2 separate regions of the Homo sapiens genome follow, and region 2 is linked to region 1. Evidence: fine-mapped expression QTL. A gene starts in region 1. The other region holds a variant in brackets. All regions are shown on one strand. Distances are between the middles of the regions.

Region 1 (8,912 bases):
CCATAAGGGGTGAGAAGCTCTTGATCCGTTCAGCCAACATTCTGGGCCTTGGCCAAGACAATGAGGCAATACCTGCTCCTTAGAATAATGCTTCAAAATGGCATATTCTTCCAAGAAGTCACAGAGCAACGTTGGTATCCCCCCTCCAAAAGGGTGCACAAAAACATGCTCTCCCCAGTTTGAAATTCATTCATGCCTAGGCCTTGAGTTGTATGTAAAGAAAATGAAAGGAGGCAAGCAGGCAAGTCCTAAATAAGCCCCTGTGTCCCATGAAGGTATCAACCTGGTTCTGAGTGCTATTGCACTGAGTATCTCTTCCTTAATTCTTTACAGGCTGAGCCAAGGAAGTTAGGAGAAAGAGAGCTGGCAAGAAATAAGCATCTCAAACTGGTCCTCACTCTAAGAGCCTTGCCCGTGGGCACAAGCCTGTCTTGATGCCTGCTGACCTCCGTCCCCAGGGGACAGCAGTAGCCAGCCACTCTGCTTGTCCCCAGGGCCTAGGATTTCCTTCAACACAACCAACCTTCACTCAGTGCATTCAGGTGCCAGATACTTTGTGAAAGACCCATGGCAGGGATAAAGCGGTTGTAAAGGGAAACAAGCCACAATTGCTTTCTTCAAAATGCTCACGGCCAGTAGCAGCAGAGACAACCACGAGCACTGGCTGGCTGTCCCTGGAGGCCATCAGCTTGTTGTGATACCTCTGGTCGGATGGTTGGGACCACACAAAGACAGGAAGACACTCCCTCTCTATCCTCACAACACAGTGATAGGTCTTCCTTACATGTTCTTTGATGTGACAGAGGCTTACAAAACCATGAAAAGATTACTTATACAAAACGTGACTCGCGGATAAAACCATAGGATGCTCCCATACCAGAGGTCTAGGGAGCTTGAAAGAGATGTTTTTCTCAGTGGGGAGTGAAGGTGGAAAAAGCACTGGACTGGACTAAAAATCCAGAGCCTGTTTTCTTCACCAGCTCATCTTGTGTCCCTGAGCAAGGCATATTTCCTCTGCAGTTTTACAGATGAGGGGGAGGACTAGATCAGTTGTTTTTATTAGCAGTAAAACACATATATTTTTCTGAATTGTATTTTATCTAGAACCCCAATATATAAGACAAACAAAAAGGGAACTGCTTGGGTTGAATCAGGGATGAGGAGCCCAGAGCCCATCTGCTCAGGCTGGGTGGCCCTCAGGGAACCCAGTTTGAAAACCACAGGAGTAAATTAAGTCTGAGAGCCCCTCTCATAGGGTTCCCGGGGAGGACAGAAGGAGGGACTCATCATTGATTTAGTGCTCTCCGTGGTGCTTGGCAATTTATATATCAAGTGTCATGGAAATCTTTGCAACAGCAACATGAGGTTAACTAGCTGTGGACTAGCATCTGCTCTGATCTGAGTTGTGAACTGGGATCTTCTGGCAAGAGGCAAAACTGGGATTTGAACCATGGGCGTTCTGACTCCAAACACAGTATTCCTCCCCTTGATAAGAAGTTCCTCAAGGTATGTGGAGTGTAGAATATTGGGCTGAATCAATAATATCCTTGAATTACAAATATATGTACATATATGCAATACAGGAAAATTTCTTGAAGAATATGCCCTCCATCATTATTATTAGTTATCTCTGTGTGGTGGAAATGTGGATGATTTTCAGTTTATCTTTTCTAATTTTCCTGTAATTAACAAATATTGTCTTCATGAAACAGGTATTGCTTATTAAAAATGATGTTCATAACTCATAATCAATATGCTTATGCTAGGTTTCTACAGGGAATTAGGGACTGGGGGATAAGTGGTATCCCTGACCTTTTGGACTTGATAGTGGAAGTAACAATCCCAAATCCCATCAACTCTCCTTGGGCCACATAATGCTGTTCATTTAAATTCTCTGAAGTCTCGGTTCTAGGGAGTGTGGTTGTTTTAGAAAGCAACAGCACATCCCTGAGACACCTCCCAAATATATGCCTCTCCTCTCCACCCCCATCAGTTGCTCATTGTAAAAAAGGGGGAGGAGCCGGGCGTGGTAGCTCACGCCTGTAATCCCAGAACTTTGGGAGGCCGAAGCGGGCGGATCACTAGGTCAGGAGTTCAAGACCAGGCTGGCCAACATGGTGAAACCCCGTCTCTACTAAAAATACAAAAATTAGCTGGGCGTGGTGGCAGGCGCTTGTAATCCCAGCTACTCGGGAGGCTGAGGCAGGAGAATCGCTTGAACCCAGGAGGCGGAGGCTTCAGTGAGCCGAGACTGTGCCACTGCACTCTCCAGCCTGGGCGACAGAGCGAGACTCGGTCTCAAAAAAAAAAAAAAAAAAAGGGCAGGGGTGAGGGAGGTGCTAATAAAACTAATGATAGTCACATGACCCAGTGCTAATAAAACTAATGATAGTCACATGACCCAGGATCAGATGCCCTCACTCCCAGCCCAGCAGGACCTACAGAGAGCCCACCAGCCAGGCCAGCTCAACTCTCCAGCCCCACCCTGAGGGCTTCCCAGAAGCCACTGGCAATATCGATCCCAGAGAGGAAACACCACCCTGAAGGCAAGACAGTGTTGGTCAGGCATGAGGCTGGGCAAGGCGTGTCAGCCACTTTCCTGTATTATTCATGTCGGCTCTGCCAGCAGAAATCTTCTAAATATTTAACATGCCACCTCAAGGTGCAGCGCAAACACCCCGCAGTCAGGAACAGCTGTGGAGAGGCCTTCACGGAATGACTTGGGGGCTGAGAGGCACAGACACTGGCTTTGGGAGGAAAGCCCTGAATGGTGGCGGGAGACAATGCTGAGATCCACTTCGGAAGGGAAAATCAGTAAAGAAGGGAAGGGAGATGGGTGGTGTTTCAAAACGTGGGGAGTGATGGTGCACAATCACTGGGGTCCAGAGCCCCGTGTTCTCAGACAAAGAAAAAGCCCGAGGTGCCTGCCACCCTCCTCCCCGCCTTAGACTCCCCACACCCATTTCAGCCCCTGCTAGCTACAGCAGGTGGCAAATCTGTTCTGACTCAGGCCAGGATGGTTAGGGAAGAACAGGGACTTGGAACAGCCACGTCTATCTCCAAAGGAGAATAAATCCACCGGGGAAGCTCTTCAAACGCCTACAGGTCCTGGGGCTTGAAGGAGAAAATCGGCCCCCACGCCCACCCCCAATGACTTCACACAGACCTCACCCTAGATGACTCTGCGCTCTCCTGCAAGGCCTGGGAGGTGTCATCGCCACCATGCGGGTGGCTGTCACTTGAAAATTTCCCGTGCATTCCTGGAGGTACCTGCCCCTGTCTCTCAATCCCCTGCAAAAGGAGTCGGAGCCGGGGGCTCCAGGCGTTTACTCCAAGATTCACATGCGTCTTCCCATGTCCCAGCTGCCTTTGCCGCTGTCGATGCAGACACCTAAAAAGGAGGATTTTTCCAACCCCACTGGGAGCCCCGCCTCTGCCTCTCCACCCGTTCCGCGCTGACCCTCCAGGCAGCGCCCCTGGTTCGTCTGCGCTGTCCTTTCCACCTGACAAAAGCTGGGGCGGCGGGGCGCGGCGCCGGGCGACCTCACATTTCTGCCAAAGGAGAGAGACGCGTGTCCGCGGTGCGCCCATTCGGGGCCTCTGCAAATCGACCGAGCTGAGGAACAAAGCGGCCAGCGCGCGGCGAGACGCAGCCCCCACGGAACCCCCGAGCGCCCCAGCCCTCGCCGTCCCGGCCCAGCCCCCCGCAAGCGGCCGCCGGCGCCGGCTGCCTCCTGGGCAGCAGCCGCGTCCTGCGCCGCCCGTCCGCCCGCAGGCGTCCTCGGCGGCTACTGTACCTGCTAAATTTAGCTGCGCCGGGTATTAATAGCCCGAGCCACTGGGACCGGGCGCTGTAGGGGCGCGCGCAGCCCGGGGCCGGGGGCGGGGAGGGAGGGGACGGAGGGGCGCGGGGGAGAAGGCCACTTACACCACCAGCCTGGAGATGATCCATGACACCATGGCGGGCAGGCGGGCGGGCGAGGCCCGGGCGGCGCGGCTCGGCTAGGCTGCGGGCGGCGCGGGCTGCTGCGGCGTTCCCGGAACGTCAGTCAGCTCACGGCAGCCGCCGCCAGACTGAGCGCGCCCGCCGCCCTGCCCGGCGTTCGCGCGTTGGCGCAGCCGCGGCACGTTCTGGCGGCGGCGGCGGCGGCCCCAGCCCCCCGGGGCTCGGCGGGCCCGCAGCGATTGGGCGGTGAGCTGGTCAGGGCACCCGCGGGCCCGCCCCGTCCCGCTCGCCCTGGCCCCCGGCTGAAGGCGGGCGCGTCCTGCGCGCTCCCCGGGGCACCGGCCCCGCCAAAGGAACCCTGCAGCGGCCCCGTTTGCAGGGCAGGGACCCGGGTGCTGCCCCACCCTCAGCGTTCCAGCGGAGAAACTGAAGTCCGAACCTGAACCTCGGGAATCTGTCTGCACCTGTCTAGGTGGGATGCTGTCATCCCTCATTCAGCTAGTGCGTTAGCCTCATAAAGGGTTTACCTGGATCCAGACCTAACCTCTTCAGTCTGTCCGTTGCTCAGCACTTTCTGCATAAGAAACAAACCTGGGCGCTTGCCTCCCTACTTAAAATTCTACAGAGTCCCTATATGATCGTGGTACCTGCCTAGAACCGTGTTGCCAAGACCATTCCCCCAAATAGTCCTCTAGCTCTTTTCCCTCCAGGCATCTTGGACTCAAATATTTGCTGTTTCTTCTTCCCTGTCAGTACACGCCACGCCTCATCGTCCTGCCTTGGTTTGATTCAGCTCCTTCTTCTAGGCTGGGCTGAAGGGCTACTTCTTCCTAGGGAAGGCCTTTCCTTGGGGGCTGCTCCGGGCCCTAGGAGGAGACTAGAAGCTGCGACTGCTTAGCACCAGTGCCCCGCTGAGCCACGTTGAACTCTTAGGCAAAAGGGAACTTGTGCACCCTATATAAACGTTTTTATGTATTTTTTAAAATACCGTATTAAATATTATGGTGGTTTTTTTTGTTGTTGTTGTTTTTTTATGAGACAGAGTCTCGCTCTGGGGTGCAGTGGCGCGATCTCGGCTCACTGCAAGCTCCGCCTCCCGGGTTCAAGCGATTCTTCTGCCTCAGCCTCATGAGTAGCTGAGATTACAGGAGTGCGCCACCACGCCCAGCTAATTTTTGTATTTTTAGTAGAGACGGGGTTTCACCATGTTGTCCAGGCTGGTCTCAAACTCCTGACCTCGTGATCCGCCCGCCTTGGCCTCCCAAAGTGCTGGGATTACAGGAGTGAGCCACCTATTATGTATTTTAGTTGCTGAATTTTATGGCACCTCTTAAATGTTGCACCCTCACTGAGCGCCTCACTCTGCTCACCCTAGTCCCGGCCGCAGATAGTACATTATTCTGTTACACTGGAAACGCTTTGTCCTCTACTCCTAGGCTCTGCTGCTGCTTTTCCCACCCTCCAATAGCTTAGGTTCTGCGTGGTGCTCCCAGCGCCCTGTCCTTTGCTGATGATGGTGTCATGTATAATTCAGTGTCAGATGTGAGAAGCGCAGGAGACAGCTTAGTACTCTCAGATGTAGCAGAATCTGTGCGTGCGTGTGCCTGATATAGTCAGAAGAAAGACTTCACGGACAACAAAGGGACTGCAGATGAGACATGCTCTCATATCTCAGGTCTCCAAAGAACCCATAAAATAGCTGTAATGTAGCAGTTTTTTCATGCTGCCTTGACCCAGTTTTGAGGCTCAGGCTGGAGGCTGGTCAGTTCCCCTTCTCCAGCAGTCTATTAACTGCATACCCCCAACCACTTCCGTTAGCAGGCTCTCACACGCGGGACACTATACACCTGTCCAGGGCTAGGCACCAAACAACTAGTTACAGCCCCTGTACTTCAGAACCCGCTGAAATTATCCAAATTAGCCTATCCTATATCTGCTTGCCTTATTTCACTCTTTCCTTCCCTCAGAAACCATGATAAAGATGTTTGTCCACAATTCCCCTCTCTCCCTCTCTCTGTGACAGACCCTGGCCCTGAGTGGACCTGCATGGTGTGCTGTGATCTCTCCAGGAAACTGTGGATATAAAAAGCTCTAAAACTCTTTCTAGCTTCTCTCTCTTGATCTGTGTCTGGCCCCACCATATCTCACTCAAGGTAAGGTTATACGGGTAAAACAATGCTCCACGGGGAAAAGCTTTCCATACTTACTAGGCAAAGAGAACACCAAAGCTAGATCAGGACAGCACCCAGCACAGAGGACCTTCCTGAGACCTCCCTTCCCCTCCATCCATACCCCTCACCTATGCTCCCTGCGTCAGAAAGGCTGTTACCCATCTTGCAGGGGGAGCAGCGGAGGGATGGACTACTGTGGTTCAAAGAGACCCTGTTGGTGGGAAAATAAAGAAGAGGTGACCACATGCTTGTTCCCTACTCCCTATAAGTGGAATTCTCAGATTTGACTATTGCACAGGACTGAGCATTTTAATTACCAAAATGAAACTATTCATGGGGTTAAAATATCTTGAGGTCTTTTCATTAGCTGAAGAGGACCAGAAAACTAGTGAGACCAACACATATTTCTCACAAGGGATGAGAAAGAACTTGTCCATAGAGCGGACTTGGATGGGTAGAGGAGGGAAAAGAAGAAAGAAAGAAAGAAAGTTGCTTTTGTACTGCATTCTGTCTCTTTCAGTGTAACTGTTACACTTATTGTATCTCTCTATCCTGGACCTGCTCTTGTTTGTCCTTGGCCCTGGAAAACATGTGGCCAGGGAACGGACTCCACCTTCTAGACAATGGAACTCTTACAGCTCTATCAGTTTCTTGACTTCAAGTTCTTTTTCATAAGAACTGCTTTGATAATAGATGTCTCTCATCTGTTTTTACCCTGTACCCTTCCCCTTTCTTCTGGGAAGAGCTCTCTGTTTTTCACTGGGGAATGAGTCTCCCCATACTCCAACCTTAGAAACTGTGATTTTCTTATATATCCTCACTACCTTGATTGGCTTATGGGTGATCACCAAACAGAAACTGGGCCAACGATCTCCCTTGGGATTTTTAAAGTTGAAAATAGAAAAAAGAGAATTCCACTTTCTTCTATGAAGCATTGGCTGCTGTGGGAATTGTCCTCCCATTGCAAACAACTAGAAAAACAGGATCAAAAAAAAGAAACAACTGTTTTTCTTTACTTGTTTGTTTGAGACGGAGTCTCACTCTGTCGCCCAGGCTGGAGTGCAGTGCTGTGATCTCGGCTCACTGCAAGCTCCGCCTCCTAGGTTCACACCATTCTCCTGCCTCAGTCTCCCGAGTACCTGGGACTACAGGTAGCCACCAGTATGTCCAGCTAGTTTTTTGTATTTTTAGTAGAGATGAGACGGGGTTTCACCGTGTTAGTCAGGGTGGTCTCGATCTCCTGACCTCGTGATCCACCCTCCTCGGACTCCCAAAGTGCTGGGATTACAGGTGTGAGCCACCGTGCCCGGCAAGAAGCAACTGTTTTTAAGCATTGAACAACAGAGCACAGGACTGTGATAACTAAGAGAAGAGAAACAAATGAAGTGAGTCTTACGTCCGAGCTTACTGTCTCAAAGCAGTTTCCAGGCATCACTGTAGGGATGGAGAACCCAAACAGAGCCCAGAAATTTCACAGAACACAGGAGACAGATCAGAGTCCAGGGAAGCCAAAGTGGCTAGAATTTGTGAAGCAGAATATAAGAGTGATGGGAGATGATTAGAGAGAGAGTTGCAGAGATCTGCAGAGCAGTCACTTCAAGTCATTAGCTGAATACTGTCCTAGGCATGCATGGGTGAAATTCTATGAGGCCATGGGAAGAACTACCAGAAAGCAGTATGCCAAACAATTCCTGGAGCTCACACAGGGCTGGAAGTAATTTGTCTTCATACCAGCCAAAACAGAGACCTTTTATACACAAAGCATTGGCCAGAGTCCACAGAAGGGTATCATCTTAATGCAGGGGGAGGCTAAATTAGCCCTAAAATAAACACTTATCTGGTCCTGCCTTAACAAAACTTAAAAGCAATCTTCAAAAGGATCAAATTGATCTCAAGTAACTTAACTGTGCTCAGAGAAAAAAAAAAGTCCAAGATTAGTTACAAAACAAACAACAACAAAACCCAACACCCAATAAGATAAAATTCACAATGTCCAACATGCAAACAAAAATTATCAGGCATGCAAAGAAAATGACTTGTAAGCAGGTTGAAAAATCAACCAATAGAAACAGACCATGAAGTGACAGAAATAATGCAATAAGCAAATAAATACCTTCAATTTTATAATATTTGAACAGACATTTCACCAAAGAAAAAATACAAATGGAAAAACAAAAAGTACATGAAAAAAATATTCAACATCATTAATCATTAATTAGGGAAATACAAATTGAAATCACAAGAAGATATTACTGCACACATTTAAGAATGGCTACAATGAAAAAGACTGATCATTTCATGTTCTGGCAAGGATATGGAGCAACTGGAACTCTCATATGCTGCTGGTGGGAAAGTAAAATGATACTACTTTGAAAAATGGTTTTCTATATTTCAAAAAAAGTGGAAATTACTTTTGCCTCACACCCTTCCCCTTTCTTCTGGGAAGAACTCTCTACTTTTTTTGGTGAATGATTCTCCCCATGTTCCAACCTTAGAAACTGGTCAGACAGTTTCTTTTTTTTTTTTTTGAGATGGAGTCTGGCTGTGTTCCCCAGGCTGGAATGCAGTGGCACGATCTTGGCTTACCACAACCTCTGCCTCCCAGGTTCAAGCAACCCTCCTGCCTCAGCTTCCTGAGTAGCTGGGATTATAGGCATGTACCACCACACCCAGCTAATTAATATATTTTAGTAGAGACAGGGTTTCACCATGTTGGCCAGGCTGGTCTCGAAATCCTGATGTCAGGTGATCCACCCACCTCAGCCTCCCAAAGTGCTGAGATTACAGGCGTGAGC
Region 2 (8,000 bases), 120 kb before region 1:
ATCTCCGCAACAGGAAGCAATCATCAGAGTCCCATCCCACATATCGCATGAAGCTGAGCCCTTTGAGAGGCTGATGCCTCCCTCTTAAATTATGCTCCTCAATCTCCCAAGGGAACGGTTGTGCAGAATGACACATCTTTCTTGTTTCTGCCTGAGGAGCAAAATTATCTTAAATGATTCAGCAGAAAGAGACACCTCCGCATGCTTCCTTTGCTTTTGTTATTTCCTTTGGGAACCAGCCTAATGTGTTTTGGTACATGCCTCAAATTTCCATCATCAAATTTCCAGTCCCCTTTCTGGATGAGAAACCTCTTAATGTACAGCACACCACACCACAAAGGCAAACACCACCTTGAAGTACAGGTTGAATATCCCTTATCCGGAAATGCCTGGAGTCAGAAGTGTTTGGGATTTCAGATTTTTTTTTTTTTTTTTTCAGATTTTGGGATGTTTGCATATACATTCCAATTGAGCACCCCAATCTGAAAATCTGAGATTCAAAATGCTCCTATGAGCATGACCTTTGTGCGTCTTGTCCACACTCAAAGAATTTCAGATTTTTCGATTAGGGATGCTCAACTTATATGAAGGGCTCCACCTCATCTCTCCCACAAATGACTCTCAAGAGACCCCTCCTTCCATGGGATACACAGATCACAGGAGGAGTTCCTATTTCAATGAAAGTGAAGGGAACATTTTCTGGCACAGCACTTGAGGGGGTTCACACAACTGGCCCCAACCTACCCTTGGCCCCCGTGTCTGTCCACTTCTCTGTATACACAGAGAACTTCTTTCTCTACACTGTGCCCATTCATGCCTCTATTCCTTCTGACTGGAAGCCCTTCCCTCCCTCCTCTGTCTTGCATATTTCTAGGCCTCTTGAGGACCCAGCTCAAAAGTCACTTCTGCAAAGGTTTCCCGGAGCCCCTCCTGCCACTGCCCAGCCATGCACAACCAGGCATCGTCACCTCCTTTGTTCTCTCATGTTTTGTACATGTCCCCCAGCAGAGGACTTTGCACCCAGTGGGAAGGGAGTGTGTGGGGGCCCTGCTCACTCTCTCCCCACCAGACTGGGGACTTCCTGAGGGCAGGCCCATGTCGCATTCACCACCATTTCCTGGTAAGTGGCTCAGTGCTGGGCAGGCACATACAAGGCAGGAAGTGAATGAGCCAGAAAACAAGACTCAGGCCCTCTCATAGAGTCCTCATGCTACAGCCTTACCACTAGGAAATGCTTACCAGCCACCTCTGGACAGACACTGAAAACGGAAACAACGGAACCCACCTTTATAGTAATCTGCCTCTTGGCAGGCTGGTGAACTGTAAACAGTAAAGCAGTTTGTGCAGCTTTAATAAACAAAAGCAAAACAGCACAAACCCTTGGGCCTTAGAATTCTTTAGGCTGGGCTCCTCTCCCCATCAGGAGGCTGCCCAGGCCAGATTGCCCAGGCCAGACTCCTCCAGCAGTGTCCAAGCCCAGAACATCCTTTCCCAAACCCTCTAACTTTAAAAGGGATGCATGTGTGCCTCACCTTGCAAAGGAACCTGATGAACTGCACATGGAGGTGGTCATAATTACAGTCCTAACAAATAAGAATGCTAGGCTGCTCAGTGTCTGCAGAAGGGAACATTTCAAGGCATCTCCCCATATAAGTCTCACAAGGGTCTGTACGGAGACTTCCTATTTGCTTCAGATGGCCTCTCAGGCCGTGATACTCAGCAGATGGGGAATAGGAGAGGAGACCTTAGGAAGCAGAGAGAAAGACTGGGGTCCCTGCACCTGTGCTCATGACTGGTGACTCCCTACCCACATCACAGAGCAAGGCCCAGGAGGCTCCAGGCTCAGCCCTCCTGCTGCCAGAACTCCATCCACATCCTACAACTGAAAATAGCATATATGTCAAGGGTATTGGTTTTGGTAACCCTAAAGGGCTATACCCCTTCACTAACATTTCATGAATAGCTACTTTATACCAGGCACTATATGCTGTGTCTTGGAGATACAGCGATGAACAAGCCTTGTTCTTATTTATAAAAACTTTTCAAATAACACATTCTGAGTTTTCTTCCCCCAAAACAGTCAATTTGGGTTGTTTTTCACTTGTACGTCAACTTAGAGTGGTAGTTGTTAATACCTGGAAAAACCAAAACAAAACAATAAAGACCTAGATACTTTACCACTCTCCTATTTGTTTTTCTTTTCTTTTTTTTTTTTTTTTTGAGAAGGAGTCTCGCTGTGTCATCCCGGCTGGAGTGCAGCAGTGCAGTCTCACTGCAACCTCCTCCTCCTGGGTTCAAGCGAGTCTCCTGCCTCAGTTTCCCAAGCAGCTGGGACTACAGGTGCGCGCCACTACACCCGGCTAATTTTTGTATTTTCAGTAGATAAGGGGTTTTGCCATGTTGGCCAGGCTGGTCTCGAACTCCTGACCTCAGGTGATCCACCTGCCTCGGCCTCCCAAAGTGCTGGGATTACAGGCATAAGCCACTGCACCCGGCTCACGCTCCTATTTCTAAATGAAATTAATAGGATTTCCTCTCCTTGGCAAGTAGCTGGATGCTATCCAGTGACTGGTTCTGCTTGTTTGATGGAAGGAGATCTTTCCACCCCAGGTATTGAGGAGATGTTGGTGCCCCAAGAGATGCTGCTCCCAGGACCCCCAATCTCCAGGGCATAGCCTTTGGACAAACACACTCCAACCCACAGCCCCAGACACTGTGTACCTCCAGGGGCAATTCCATCCTTCGAGGTGCTTTATACTTGTACATGAAATCCAGCAGGTCTTCCTCCTCGTCGTCAGAAAACGCCAATGGGTTTTGGACCTGGTGGGGCTCCCATGCCTTCATACCACCCTCATTCACATCTCCCTCAACCACTTAATGTCCATTTACAATCTACACAGATGAGACAAGGTATAGCAAGGAAGCATCAGTGCAGGGAGCAGGGAAGGGCAAGGTTAGGCACACAGCACAGCAAACCAGGCCTGTGAGGACAGCTGAGGCCCCTCGGTCTGAGGAAGCACTGATGTTTTGGGGGCCTCCTTACAGGGGATCTGGGATTGTGAAAGTGCAGTTGTGTGAATCTCCAGGCACTGTGCACAGAAACAACCACAGACTCAGAATCTACTGAATTCTGAGTAATTCAGTAGATTTACTAAGGGGGCATCACTTCCCTGGGTGAAGAAAGAAGCGGCTTTAACTGAGACACATCAATCCCTGCAGCTCAGTCCTGTGATCCCACACCAGGTGAATGCTCAGGGAAAGAATCTCCTCTAGAGAGGATGGCAGCAGTGATGTGGGGTGGGGTGGGAGAGCAGTTTCTATGTTGTACATACAAGCCATGTTGACATTGTATATTATACTTGCATATTCAATTCCAAGCATCCTGTAAGAGACAGGATATAAAATGCCAGGAGGCCTTAAGTGATAACCTTAAACAAAGCTATATAGTTTTTTTGTTTGTTTTTTTTTTTGCGAAGGCCCAGTCCTAGAGAAGCAGAGAAACCTAAGGAAGGAGAATCTGACAGATGCCTCTGCCAAAAAAAATGATAGCAAGATTCCTGTTTCAGTCTGCCTTGAATACATCTGCGGGAAAAGCTTCAGAATTAATTCATCTCATTGAACGCACAGTATTTTTTAAATGTTAAATGCTAATACATATTCCATGTCATCTGCTAGGCGGTTCTTAGTTGAGATGTAAAATATCTTCTGCCCCTACCCAGCTTATCTGGTATCACACACACACATTTTTCTATGCTGCATCTATTGTTTTTACCTAGAATCACAGAATGCAAGACTAAGGGGTTCTCAAGTCATCTGGTCCAATCACCGTGAGGCCTCCAGATAGAAACCACAGCTCTTCTTGAGACACCCTGCTCCTAAGAACATATTCAGCCACCGAATGTGCTCTCTCTCCATCAACAGTGGACTTGCTAGACTATACCACCACCAGGCGTGGAGTAAAAAAACAGACAACTGAACCCTAATCTTGGGCAGCTTTACCAGTTACCACTGCTGTGCTCCCCAACAGCCAGCAGGA[A/G]GCAGCACAACATGCAAAGCTGAATTTTAGGCTGGGGTGTGATTGGTTCAGACTGGGCCTTAGTAAGTAAAGTCCTGAGATCACTGATGTTCCTTTGATTTTTAAATTACTATTATTATTTTATTTCTACTCTGCACTTCCCTCAGCTTATTTACTCTGGGCTTAGTTTGTCCTCTGCTCCCTTCCTCTGTCCTAATCAGCTGCATCCTGTTGAGCACAAAGACCAGTGACTCCAGGGAGCCCTCGCTGAATACTCTGACCCTCCCTGGCCTCCCCACTCTGAGACCCGACAGTGCTTGGAGGCTGTGCCACACAGCTTGTGTTGGGTGCCCTGGTCCTCATGTCAGTCTCATTGCCTCAGCCAACAGAAGGCATCCTGAGACTGGGGGGCCATGGCTGATCCTCCCTCAGTCTCTCTGAGCACCTGACCCAGGGCTGGGCACACAGTGGCCACTCATCAACTAAACTAAATAGAATCCTGAAGTCATCTCAGAGAGCTCAGCTCTAGTCCCAAGTCAGAGCTTGACACCCCCATTAACCAAACCAGGAAATTCCTTCTGGACACAGATACCTCCTGCCTGGCAGGAGGGAAAAAAGACCAAAAGCCCTCAGACCAAGGCAAAAACTGCAGAAGCAGCCTGGCCAGCTCCACCCCAGCAGCCAACTCCATGACATGGAAGTGGGGTGGGTACCGGTTCGAGACTGTGCCTCTGCATATGCTGTACCCTCCACATCCAGGTCCAGGGCTTTCCCTGTACTGATGGTTGTGGGTGTCAGAAGGTGGCCCAAAGTCACCGTGAGATCCTCAGGCATCTAACAACCCAGGCTAGTTATCCAGTCTGGATTCACTGAGGCTGAGCAATGAACTCACACTTACCAAAATCACCATCATCACTATAATCTCAGGACTGAAACCAAAATGGCTTTGTGCATGTTCTCCACTGCAAGGATTGCAGGGTAGAAAAGAAATGACCCTCCAGCCCAGTAGGAGTGATGGTTCAAGGACAACCCAGATATCCAAGCAGGAATAGAAACAAGTGCTCAGCTCAGCAGAGGCTGGGAGCAAAAGAGGCCAGTGTGGGCAGTGAGGGAGCCAGAATAGCCTCAGGAAGAAGCTACAGAGAGAACCTCCTAAGAAGATAAGACATCTCCTAGTCACTGTGTCCGCTGAGCATTTCTGCCAAGAGTGTTGTCTATAATATTTGCCTTACTCTCAGAACCAGTGAGAATAAACATTCTAAATAAGACAAGCTTCCACGCCTCTAGCTGGCTGTTGCACAGTGGACTGAATCTCTTAATAATTGTATTTCCCTCTTTGCAGTGGTTTCAAGGAAGCCAGGTGTCTCAACAGTCTACACCTTGATGGTATGCATTTAAAATGTCCTTCTCCCCACTGATTCCATCTTACTTGCCCACTCCCTTCTCCCCATGCTTCAATTTTCTTACTTTGATTTGCTACTTTAGATATATTTCCACAAGTAGACCTAACTCCTTTTTATATCAGGAAGGAGTATAAATGGAGAAATGAACCCCACAGAACATAGTCCCAAAAGAGGGGCACCAGGAGGAGCAGGAGAGTGAGTAGCTGGGTAGAAAATCCCATGCTCTGCCTCCTCCATGTTCTTGTCCCTGAAGATCTAAAGATTGGTGACCCAACAGGTCCTTACCCCTGGCAACAGGCCTGAAAGAGTATTGCTATCCACATCTTAGTACTCTAATTGGCTCCCAGAGACAATGTGTGTGGGAGGAGGGTCTCCCGCCCAAGGTCATGGCCATAACAACTTGCAAACCTCAGGTGATGGTGGCCACGGCCTTGAGCCTGCAGAGCTGCCACTATGATGCCCAAAGCTGGGTTGCTTCTAGGAAAGGGCAGGGTTTCTGCCGTCTTCCACAGCAGGGGAATGGGTGTGTGGCCTTGGCTGATGTTTCTGTATTAGCAAATGTGTCAGCAGGGCTACAGCAGCCAGGGCTGCAGGCTCCACCTCTTCTCTCTGTGGGGAAGGGAGGGAGGGAGAAACTGGCAGAGCCTCTCAGCCCTTTAAAGGCCTGTGTAGCCTGCAGTGGGCCCAGGGCTGCCGCACCCCTGCAGTGCAGCAGAACCTCCCCCAGGTTAGCAAAAACATCCCACACAGCACACATTAGCGGGAGCATTAATGGAAGGCAGCAAATGTCTGCAGAAGAGCACGCCTGTCTGGAACACTTACATCCACGTCCCCAACAGCACCGAGGAGAGAGAAAAGAACATTCCGTTAGAGAAGGGTCTTTGGCACTAAAACTCACACGTGTGCACCATGCACACATCCCCATCCACACACACTCACACACAGACACACTCACATACACACATGTAGACACACACATGCTCACTCACTTCCCATGCTCTAAACCTCAGGCAGCTCCTCCTGCTATAATCAGAAGGACACTGCCCAGAGGCCACACTCAAAATGCAATTCTCTCTCTCTCTCTCTCTCTCTCTCTGAGAGGACAAAAAGGATGACTGCTTTTAAAAATTATGTCCTACATGCTTGATTTTAAAAGGGGGGGAGGGACACCTCTATGACTAACCACACAGGCAGTAATCCAGAGTTCAGTTCTATATGACATAGAGGTAGGCAGAGAAAAAAAAAAAGAGAGAGAGAGATAATAATAGACACACAGAAAAAGAGAGACAAAGACATGCAGAAAACAATAGGGAATCAGTTGACAAATGGGGCAGGAACAGAGCAAAGATGGGAAAAGAATGTTCTGGCATCTGAGATGTGCAGCTTAGAATAGAGGCTGCTGCCCCTGGGGCCTCTAAGCTCTGTCACTGCCCTAAAAGGCACTTAGCAGCCTCCGAAATGCCTCCTTTCCCTACCCCCATCATGAATTAAGACCTGAATTTACAACTCCTAGAAAATGTTCCTGTCTGCTGAGGGATCCTGGGGCTCTGCATGGCCCCAGAGGTAATTTGAATCTTCCCAGGCTTTGGCCTGAGTGAGCACCCCTTGTGACAACATTTCAGGGGACCAGGAGGAAAGTGTCCCCGACAACTGTGAAATCCTCTTACTGCTTAAGAGTCAGCCTATAGCCCCAGGTGCAAGACAGACCTCCCCCAACACCATCTGCCACCACTGCACAATCCAGTAGAGACTGTCAGAGCTGGGAGGACCAAGGGACACCTCATGGAGGGGGAGACTGAGGCCTGCAGAGTGCAGGGGCTTTCCCAAGGCCTCAGAGGGAATGGTGTAGGCCAATCATCAAAGGGTTCCTTGCATGCAGACCTGAGAGCCAGGGCACAGGTATTAAGAGGCCCTTGGAGAGGCGGAGGTCCAAGAAAGGAAGGGCTAGGACAACGGCTTCCAGGTCTTGAGGCCACCACCAGGCCTCACCTGCTTCCCGCTGTCCAGCAACCCCCATCCCAGCAGCAACCAACCTGCTCGGGGATAAGGAACCAGAACTTGGACACTGAATCCTGGACACACTCTTATGCACATGCAGCCTTCCAGAACTATTCAGTTCCTACAATCAACCACAGCTCTATTGAAATGCACTGGAAACACTGTGTCTGATCATGAAACCACCAGATGTCATGGCAGGGAAGGGCTTCTGAGAGCAGCACAGAGCAGTGTCAGGGGAAGAATGGAGGACAGGGCAGCCACTCTCCCCGACCCCCAAGTGCCAATCTCCCAGAATTAGAGGCTTTTGGAATGGCTCACAGAATTTGCAGACTCAAAACTACAGTGTGAATAGACAGAAATCCCTGCAATTGCCTGGAGCCACTGGCACCACAGGGTCATTTCCCATGAACTAGTGTGTCCACCAGGCCAGCGTCTAGTGCCCGGTGCTGGAAACAGCTGAACGCAGCCCCTTCATTTCCAACTTGGACCAGGAGGCCCCACAGGGACACAGGGTTAGTCAGAGCTGGGCTGGGACGCTTCTCTCCATCTGCAGCCCTGCTCAGACTCCTCTGTCAGTTCAGTTT

Direction of the effects. Positions count from the first base shown, and alleles are read on the strand shown. Sizes are in standard deviations (SD) of each study's normalised expression.
In carriers of allele G in region 2, the expression in tibial artery of the gene that starts at base 4,076 in region 1 tends to be higher than with A alone (small effect, 0.34 SD a copy in GTEx).

Evidence for each region. PIP is the estimated chance that this variant, and not a neighbour inherited with it, causes the effect.
Region 2: its variant is fine-mapped to the expression of REEP1 in tibial artery (GTEx, PIP 0.96).

What each region holds. Positions count from the first base shown.
Region 1 is chr2:86,333,551-86,342,462 of GRCh38, forward strand. REEP1 (receptor accessory protein 1) reads right to left here and starts at 4,076. Exons shown (of 9, transcript NM_001371279.1): 1 at 3,929-4,076. The coding sequence starts at 3,960.
Region 2 is chr2:86,217,249-86,225,248 of GRCh38, forward strand. REEP1 (receptor accessory protein 1) reads right to left here. Exons shown (of 9, transcript NM_001371279.1): 8 at 2,722-2,873. Among named protein-coding and RNA genes, the nearest start is that of MRPL35, 22 kb to the left of the region's middle. RefSeq lists an enhancer at 918-1,212. The variant A/G (reference allele first, on the strand shown) is at 4,037.